2 linked regions of the Homo sapiens genome follow. Changing the gene in region 2 together with the main gene of any one other region gives a genetic interaction. Each region holds a gene or a part of one and is shown on either strand. Other genes may lie near its edges.

Evidence for each region. A genetic interaction does not mean that the proteins touch.
Region 1: changes in DAZAP1 (region 2) and DCAF7 together harm fitness more than expected from each alone (negative genetic interaction), as found in Homo sapiens cells (one large-scale study listed by BioGRID).

What each region holds. Positions count from the first base shown.
Region 1 is NC_000017.11:63,552,862-63,556,976, forward strand, and holds part of DCAF7 (DDB1- and CUL4-associated factor 7), read left to right. Parts: intron 1-4,115. UniProt on the Homo sapiens protein: Involved in craniofacial development. Acts upstream of the EDN1 pathway and is required for formation of the upper jaw equivalent, the palatoquadrate. The activity required for EDN1 pathway function differs between the first and second arches.
Region 2 is NC_000019.10:1,427,423-1,432,474, forward strand, and holds part of DAZAP1 (DAZ-associated protein 1), read left to right. Parts: intron 1-1,419; coding exon 1,420-1,573; intron 1,574-2,544; coding exon 2,545-2,574; intron 2,575-2,799; coding exon 2,800-2,940; intron 2,941-5,052. UniProt on the Homo sapiens protein: RNA-binding protein, which may be required during spermatogenesis.

The DNA of each region.
Region 1 (4,115 bases), on a different chromosome or scaffold from region 2:
TGGCTTAGCAGTGAAATGCAAACTAATAACCCCACTATCAACAGCATTAGCAGTTAACTATATCTTAACTCACATGATGTAGGCAATGCGCTGTCTTAAAATCATTTTTGTGCCTCCACCTATCAGTAGATCAGGGTTCTTAAATTCTGTGTGCCATGGTCATCTGATACCAATAGACCCCTTCTCATAGTTATGTTTTCAAATGCATAAAACACATAGAATTACAAAAGAAACCACTTATGTTGCACTACAGATATAAACAACATGTTTTTTAAAGTGGTGATGTAGTCATATGTACTTTTAATAAATTAACTTATTGATTTACACCATCCACTGTAATTATTAATGTAATTTTGAAATGGTGACAAGGGTAAACAGCATTTCAAGATGCTTAACAACTGTGCTGTGGTGGGAAAAAAAAATTCTCTTGCTGGCAAAGTCACAGACAGTCATACCACTGTGAGCACCTGACCCCATTTGTAATTGAAGGAAACAAAAAAATTTAGCTAGAGGTTAATGGAAATATGGGGATAATTTTCCAATTCAAGTTCACAGACCCCAAGTTAAGAAACCCTGCGAGAGAGAAGTATGTGTAGTGGTTGGTGAGCAGCAAATCCTGCCTTAAAGTGATTCTCAGGCTAAGTTTGTGAGAAACCCTGCCAAAGAGGTGGTCGACTTCATAATTTGGAGGAACTTTAGAATTATTGGTTGGAATTTTTAGACCATTGGTTCCTGCTTGCCATGGATAGTGGTCACCAGCAGAGGATAAAGTAAAATGGACACAGCAAATTAACACTGATGAAAAAGGCTAGAAGTGGTCATCTTTTTAGTGTGGAGACATTCACTAAGAAAACATGGTTGTAATTTTTAAAAATTTGCATTAGCATAATCATGTTTTCCTAACGTAAAATTGTACCTAGTTGATCCATAGAATTAAGTCTATCAACAGTTTAAGAAATTGACTTCCAGGTGTTCCTTCATGTGAATAAATTTGGGAATTGTTGCAGAGTAAAGAAACAGATTCTATCAACTACACTTGGAATAAAAAGCCCCATTATAGGGCTGGGCGTGGTGGCTCACACCTGTAATCTTAGCACTTTGGGAGGCTGAGATGGGAGAATCGCTTGAGCCCGGGAGTTTGATACCAACCTGGGCAACATGGAGAAACCCTGACTCTACAAAAACATTAAAAAATTAGCCAGGTATGGTGGCATCTGCCTGTAGTACCAGCTACTTGGGAAGCTGAGGTAGGAGGATGCTTTAAGCTCAGGAGGCAGAGGTTATAGTGAGCCAAGATCACGCCACTGCACTCCAGCCTGGGCGACAGAGCCAGACCCTGTCTCAAAAAACAGCCTCATTATTGGTTATTATGTTTCTACCTTCTTTTGTTGTGGTCTCTTGAGGGATACAGCAAGATTGGTGTTGGAGCAACAGGTTCTCTAAATTTTAGTGTGTGAGAATCCTGAGGGAGCTGCACATTCCTGGGCTCCACCCCTGAAGTTAACAGACTTGGAGATAGGTGACAGACACACTAGTGGTTGAGTGGTCCAGATGGCACTCTCAGAACATGGCCCTGGAGCTGCCTTGGCATCTGTTGGCCAGAGGCGAGAATGTGATCTTTTTGTGTCTGCATGCTCCTAAACATTGGTTCTGCCCTTCCATCCAAGTTCACCCATGAAAAAAGCTCTGTGATTAGCCTGGGTTATCTAAGTCCTGCCACTTCCCAGTTTTGTATTGCCTTGGGCAAGTTATCCTCTGTGTCTCAGTTTCATCATCTGTAAAATTAGGGCAATAAATAATAACATCTACCTTGTTCAAAGATTAAATGAGTTAATATATGTAATGGACTTAGGAACGCCACCCGGTGTGGAATAAGCCATATAGAGATGTTAGCTGTTATTTAATTATTATCATTACTGTACCTGTAATTGAAATATAACCAAAGAGAATTATATGGCTGTTTAGTAAATTTACTTTTGTATTTTCCAGAAAGGATTCAGGAATAAGAGGTCAGAAAGGTAGCTGAAAAGGTCATTATTTCATTCTCTGCCTTTTAAAGACTCTGGGGGGAAAATTCCCTTATCTCTTTCAACCCAACTCATTTTGTAGTCTAGCAGATTCTTATAGTCAGACTCCAAGTAGTGTAATTTTCTAGTTTAAATCCATTTTCTCTTGTTCTACCTGGCTTACCTACGTAAGTCAGATATAAGAATTTGGCATTTCTCCTGTGTTTTGACAATATGTTTGGTCTTTAGGCCCAGGTGTTATTTCCCCTCTTTTATTGGGAAAAGCTGGGTAGCAGTTCCTGGGCTTCTGTTCCACTTAAGTGCATGTTTCAGGGTTGGTTTTGATAAAGATGGCAGTGTGATTGGGATTTAGTTTGCCCCAGTATTTAACTGACTACTTGTGCTCTAAGATTTGGCATCCAGAGAGTATTTTTGAGGTTCTGAGGAGAGACTGTAGGTATATCTGATGCTTTTTGGAGAATCCTAGTAGTGAGTCTGGGTGGCATGACCACCTTGTACTTGAAACACTGGGATGGGTACTCACCTCACCAGCCTGTGTTGATTCCTCTGAGGTTTTTAATACAATTACTTTATATGTTTGATGCATAATTATTTCGACTCCGGTATTTAATTTTTCATCTTGGTATTTGCGGTAGCCCTTCAGGATTATCATTCATTTGCTCATTAATTTAGCCGGTCTGTATTGAACACATACTCATGTGTTTTAGGCACAATGTGTTTTGGTACACATCAGTACTTTTGATAGATATTTAGAATGTCGCAGTGTTCCACGAGTCCCTGTCAAGACTGTCAGCAGGGGAATTTAAGACATAAAACTCTTCTGGTTTTAACTTCCTCCTTTTTCTAGACAGTGAGAGGACTCATTCCCTGTTGTGACCACTGGATAAAAGTGATAATGCTTTAAAAAAAAATGCTACTTTATTGCTTTTTGTCCTAATCTTGTTCACATAGACTTATTGGAGATGCTGTCACTTGAACAAGGAGTGAATCTATGCTCTGTAGGTAGCCTGGCTTGCCTAAGGACTTGCTGCCAAAGCTCTCGCTGCCAGAGCTCTCTGGTCAGCCTCTGAGCCACGAGCCAAAGGTGTGCTGTGCCAGAATTCATCTTAAAGTTTAATAGGGCAGGACCTTGGGTACCTGCAGACACTGGTCCTTGGTAATCAGTCAGGAAGAGGCTTGAAGAGAAAGCAAATAGAAAAGACCAGGAAAAGCTAGTGTATATTCTCAGAATATTGTGTTAGCCGATTTTTGTTTTATTAACAATTGTGGGAAAATGTTCCAGTGACTGGAGTGTTATGTTGATTTGGATAACTTGGGAGCTTATTTTAAAAATTACATATACATACACACATTCACCTTCTTCTTCTGCACTAGGACTGTGTGTGTTAAAGTGGAATATGGCCAGGCGCAGTGGCTCATGCCTGTAATCCCTGCACTTTGGGAGGTGGATGCAGGCAGATCACCTGAGGTCGGGAGTTCAAGACCAGCCTGACCAACATGGAGAAACCCTGTCTCTACTAAAAATACAAAATTAGCCAGACATGGTGGCACATGCCTGTAATCCTAGCTACTTGGGAGGCTGAGGCAGGAGAATAGTTTGAACCTGGGAGGCAGAAGTTGCAGTGAACGGAGATTGTGCCACTGCACTCCAGCCTAGGCAACAGAGCAAGACTGTTTCAAAAAGAAAAAATAAATCAGGGCCGGGCGCAGTGGCTCATGCCTGTAATCCCAGCACTTTGGGAGGCTGAGGCTGGCGGATCACGAGGTCAGGAGTTTGAGACCAGCCTGACCAACATGGTGAAACCCCGGCTCTACTAAAAATATAAAAATTAGCCAGATGTGGTGGTGCGTGCCTGTAATCCAAGCTACTTGGGAGGCTGAGGCAGGAGAATCACTTGAACCTGGGAGGCGGAGGTGTGGTGAGCCAAGATTGTGCCACTGCACCAGCCTGGGTGACAGAGTGAAACTCCATCTCAAAAGAAAAAACAAATTAGCTGGGAGTGGTAGCATGCACCTGTAGTCCCAGCTACTCAGGAGGCTGAGATGGAAGGATCACTTGAGCCCAGGAGGTCAAGGCTGCAGTGAGCC
Region 2 (5,052 bases):
GCGCCGGCCTTCACTGGTTGGCTGGAGCGGCACTTGGCGTCGCCGCCGGCCCCTCATGGGGGTTTTCCGTTTGTGGAGTGTTTGGTACCGCGTGGTAGTTAACCCTCCATGCCAGGCGACTGCATTGCTGCATTCAGGTAGGAAAGGGTGAAAGAATTTTTTTTTGTTTTTGTTTTTTTAAAGTACAAGGACCGCTCTGCTTTGTAAGCAGGAACCGCAGTCCCCTGAGGAGGGTGTGTGAAGACTCGCTCATTTGAGTTCTTTGAAATGGGTCCCTTGGTCCTGCTGTCACATTGCCTTGAGCTAACGGATCCTGTTCCCATCATAGGCCGGTCCTTGGGGCATTGGGCAGGTGGGGGCTTTGTGCCTCTGTGGCTGCTGCTGTCTGTTCTCTAACAGGCAGAACTGAGGGATTCTGAACTCAGGATGTGCAGCTCTCCAGACTGAGACCCCAAGGCTGACTCCAGGTGGATCCATTGTCTCTTTATTCTCATTACGATTTATCAGAAAAGTGAGACAAATTCAGGATTCTCAAATGCTGAGGCAGCCCCGGAATTGGGGGGATCTTTCTGTTGTTAGTCCACCCATATTTTCAAGCAGGCATTAAAGGAAGGTCAGCCACTGCGCCTAGAATAAGTAGGTCAGGCCTGCTCCATCCATTGTCCCCGGCCCCGCACCCTCCTCCTGAGAAGACTGTGGCTCCTGACACGTCTAGAGAGGAAGGGCCCCGGGCTGCTGAGCGAACACAGTATGAAGATTGCTTACTGATCCAAATGTCCATTTTATTGCATGTTTGTTACTTTTTTTGTTAGATGTAATGTAAGATTCTCTTATCACATCCATTCCCTCTGACATTAGTTTTGAGTTAATTGAGATTCTTTAAGCGTTAGCCTGGGGAAGGTAAGTCTTTATCTTCCATTAGACATTTTAAATTTAAAAATCTAAGTAAAACACCAGCCGTGTTTCTCAGGTATGAGTTAAAAGCACAGGTGGGCGGGCTCCAAGCAGTCCAGAGGGCGATGAGGATGCCGATTGCTGGGAAGATCCTGGTCCCTTTTTGTCCCCATGTTTTCAAGAGGAAGGAGGACGCTGCCATTTTACTTGAGTGAAAGACCCTTCGTCACGCACGAAACCCCCGAGGGCTCTGGGCTCGGTCCTGCTGCCCCGCAGTGGGCGGGCTCTGTGTGTCTTACGGTTGCATCTGTTGTACCTGAGAAACATTTTTTAAACAAAAAAATTCAACACAAAAGAATTTTTTAAGAAAAAAATGCTACTGGCCTAAATAAGGTTTATAGTTAAGTATTTAGTCTTAAGTTGTAAGATGCTAAGTGTAGTCATAAGTTACCCGAGGGTGTGTCTAAAGGGAAGGGGGTGCTGGGACCCGCAGCCTCGCCCTAAACCAGAGCTCGGTTTGTTTAGGTGGAAGTTAAACGAGCTGAGCCTCGGGACAGCAAGAGCCAAGCGCCGGGACAGCCAGGTGCCAGCCAGTGGGGGAGCCGGGTTGTGCCCAACGCTGCCAATGGCTGGGCAGGCCAGCCCCCGCCCACGTGGCAGCAAGGATATGGCCCGCAAGGTAAGGCTGATGCAGAGGTGCCCACGGGAATGTCCCCCTTCTCGGACTTGGCCCGCGCGCCCTGGGCTGTGCCGTCGCTGCGGCCTCCCCACCTCTGCTGTGCATGCACAGAGCCGCGGTTCACAGTGTCCTTGAGCCCCCGCGAGGTGCCGGCTGACAGCCAGCTCCCGGGCAGCACCCGCAGCCTCCTCAGTAGCGGGGTGGCCACGGCTTAGGTGCCCGTCCGGGGCCTGGGACTCATTGTCACCGGGAAGAGCTGCAGTGAGCGTCTGCACCTCGCGACCGTGTGCCACGGCAGGTCTGAGCACGAAACCCTGAGAGGGCTGGCATTGCCAAGCTGAGCTCAGAATCGGGGTGCTGCCCCTGGGGGGCTTGAGGAGCCGGCAGGCTTTGGATCCTTGCCACCTGCCGTTCCCTCTGCAGTGCCGTGGGCCCTCTGTAGTTAGGCCCACGTTGTGGGCCGTCCTTGGAGCTTCCAGCAGCCACGGAACCCCTGGGCTTGGCTGCAGCCCGACCCGAGTTGTGGGTCAGGGTTCCAGATGTACGTCGTCCGGGTCCCGAGACTGTGGCTTCCCTGCACCTCGTCTAAAACCTTTTTCTCTGGAGCCTCCCTTGTTGGAAACTCGGAGGTGCTGTGGGGACTGTCCCTGCCCTCTCGAGGCTTAGAAGTCTCAGGTTTCTCTGGGGTCCTCAGGTGGAGCCGGGAGGTCACCCGTGCCCCAGTCAGCAGACACAGTGCCCGCCACCTGGCAGGGCACAGAGGAGAGTGGCTTTAAGGCCTGTTCTACAAGGGGTGGGGAGTGCTTCTCTGCTCAGGGTTCAGAGGGCTCTGCCCTCAGGACGAACAGGCTCTAAGCACAGGAGGCTCCGGGGTTGGTCCCAGCCCTTGACGTCCATGCTCTGCGGCTCCTTCTCTGCGTCGGACAGCTGGTGGACACGGCGCCAACCTCCTCTTCTGTTCTCTTATCTAGGAATGTGGGTGCCGGCAGGACAGGCGATTGGTAAGTCCTTGTTTATAGAGCAAAGGCGGGGACAGAAGCCACATGGCAGGCTGACTCGCCAGGTGTCCTGGGGCAGCCGGCAAAGCCTGGTTCCCGTGTCCTGAGTGCTGGAGAGGAAGAGAGGGTGAGGGGCCTGCTAGGGCCCCTGGCAGGCCTGGGTCTAACTGTGGCCAGTCTGTGTTGTCCAGCGCTCTCTGTCCATCACCCCCGTACTGTGTGTTTCAGGTGGCTATGGACCGCCCCCTGCAGGAAGAGGAGCCCCCCCGCCACCCCCACCGTTCACCTCCTACATCGTGTCCACCCCTCCTGGAGGCTTTCCCCCTCCCCAGGGCTTCCCTCAGGGCTACGGTGCCCCGCCACAGTTCAGTAAGTCTAGGGGGCCTTGTGGGAGGGCCTCCCGCCTGCTCCGGAGATGCCAGGTGGTGGGCGGGGTGATGGGGAGTCTTGTGTTACACGTCTGGCCTCAGCCACAGGTGGGGTGCCGGCTGGTCAGCAGGTCACCTGCCACCAGGCCCTTCACCTGCAGATGGGCTCCATCGCCTGTGGCCTCGCTGGTTAGGCTAAAGGGCAGCCCGGGCTCCTGCGGGTTGGAGAGCTCATAGCAGGAATGTCTGGGCCCAACCAGTTCTCACAGGCTCCTCAGGAGACAGAGCCTGGACTTCGTGTCTTAGCCTCATACTTCAGGATTAGGGGGGCATTTGTTTAAGGGTGTACAAGCTCTAATTGTTTTTTTTTTTTTTTTGAGATGGAGTTTCACTCTGTAGCCCAGGCTGGAGTGCAGTGGCGCAATCGCGGCTCACTGCAAGCTCCGCCTCCTGGGTTCACACCATTCTCCTGCCTCAGTCTCCCGAGTAGCTGGGACTACAGGCGCTCGCCACCACGCCCGGCTAATTTTTTTGTATTTTTAGTAGAGACGGGGTTTCACCATGTTAGCCAGGGTGGTCTCGATCTCCTGACCTTGTGATCCGCCTGCCTCGGCCTCCCAAAGTGCTGGGATTACAGGCGTGAGTGACTGCGCCCAGCCTCACAGGCTCTAATTCTTGACTAATTTTCCTGTACACGTCACTTGTAATTGAAAAGCTGAGTGTAAGATCAGCCGACACACCCAGAGTTTTATTTTATTTTATTTATTTATTTATGGTTTTTTTTTGAGATGGAGTCTCACTCTGTCGCCCAGGCTAGAGTGCAGTGGCGCCATCTCGGCTTACTGCAAGCTCCACCTCCTGGGTTCACGCCATTCTCCTACCTCAGTCTCCTGAGTAGCTGGGACTACAGGCGCCCACCACCACGCCTGGCTAATTTTTTTGTATTTTTAGTAGAGACAGGGTTTCACCGTGTTAGGCAGGATGGTCTCGATCTCCTGACCTCGTGATTCGCCCGCCTCGGCCTCCCAAAGCGCTGGGATTAGAAGCGTGAGCCACCGCGCCCGGACTATTTTATTTATTTTTTTGAGATGGAGTTTCACTTTTGTTGCCCAGGATTGAGTGCAGTGCCCCGATCTTGGCTCACTACAACCTCTGCCTCCTGGGTTCAAGCGACTCTCCTGCCTCAGTGTCCTGAGTAGCTGGGATTACAGGCGTCTGCCACCACGCCCGGCTAATTTTGTATTTTTAGTAGAGAACAGGTTTCACTATGTTGGTCAGGCTGGTCTTGAACTCCTGACCTCAGCGCATCCAGAATTTTAGACGGGGCCCCCAGGGTGAGGTCTTGGCACCCTCCAGTAGAGAAGAAGGGACATGGGCCATACGTGGGGTGTCCTTTCTGGGAGCCTTGCGTCCCTTACCTGCCTAGCCAGGGATTGCACCTCACAGCACGCAGCCAGCAGGAACGGCACCGTGATCTGATTTCACCTGCGGGCCCTGGGCCCTGGGGGTGTTTGACAATTGGGGCATATCACAGTGTGAGCTAGTCCCGTCTCGGGGGTTTGGAGGCTCCACGTGGCCGTGGTACAGGAGCAGGCAGTTCCATCCTCTGGCCTGGATCAGGCTCTGCACACGGAGGCCTGTGGGCCAGATGACTGACAGGAGGGGAGTTGGGTGGAACCTCGGCCTGCCTGATATCCAGCAACAGAGGGCAAGGGCGGCAGCACCTCCAGCATGACAGTCCCTTCCAAGCACGTCAGGATGCTCCCTTGCCTGTGCTGGCAGCTTCCTAAACATGGGGACTGGGCATGGTGGCAGGTTTTTGTCCTTCTGAAAGAGCAATTTTGCTGTGAGGTTACTTGCTCCTTGAGTTCTTGTCTGAGGCCCACCTGGCGGCTGCTCCGTGAGGAACGAGGTGGCCCTGCTGCAGCTCAGCATCCCGCCACGCTCCCAGGAGTGTGTGTTTCCTGGGGGGAGCGGCCCGGGACCGTGGCTCTGTGGTCCATTCTGTGGATGTCCACAAGGCCTGGGCGTTCTGTGGGTTTGGGTGGCAGTCCCGTCTGGGCAGCTCCTGCTGGGCTGGGTGTGGGTCTCCTGCTGGTCTGCCCCCAGCTGC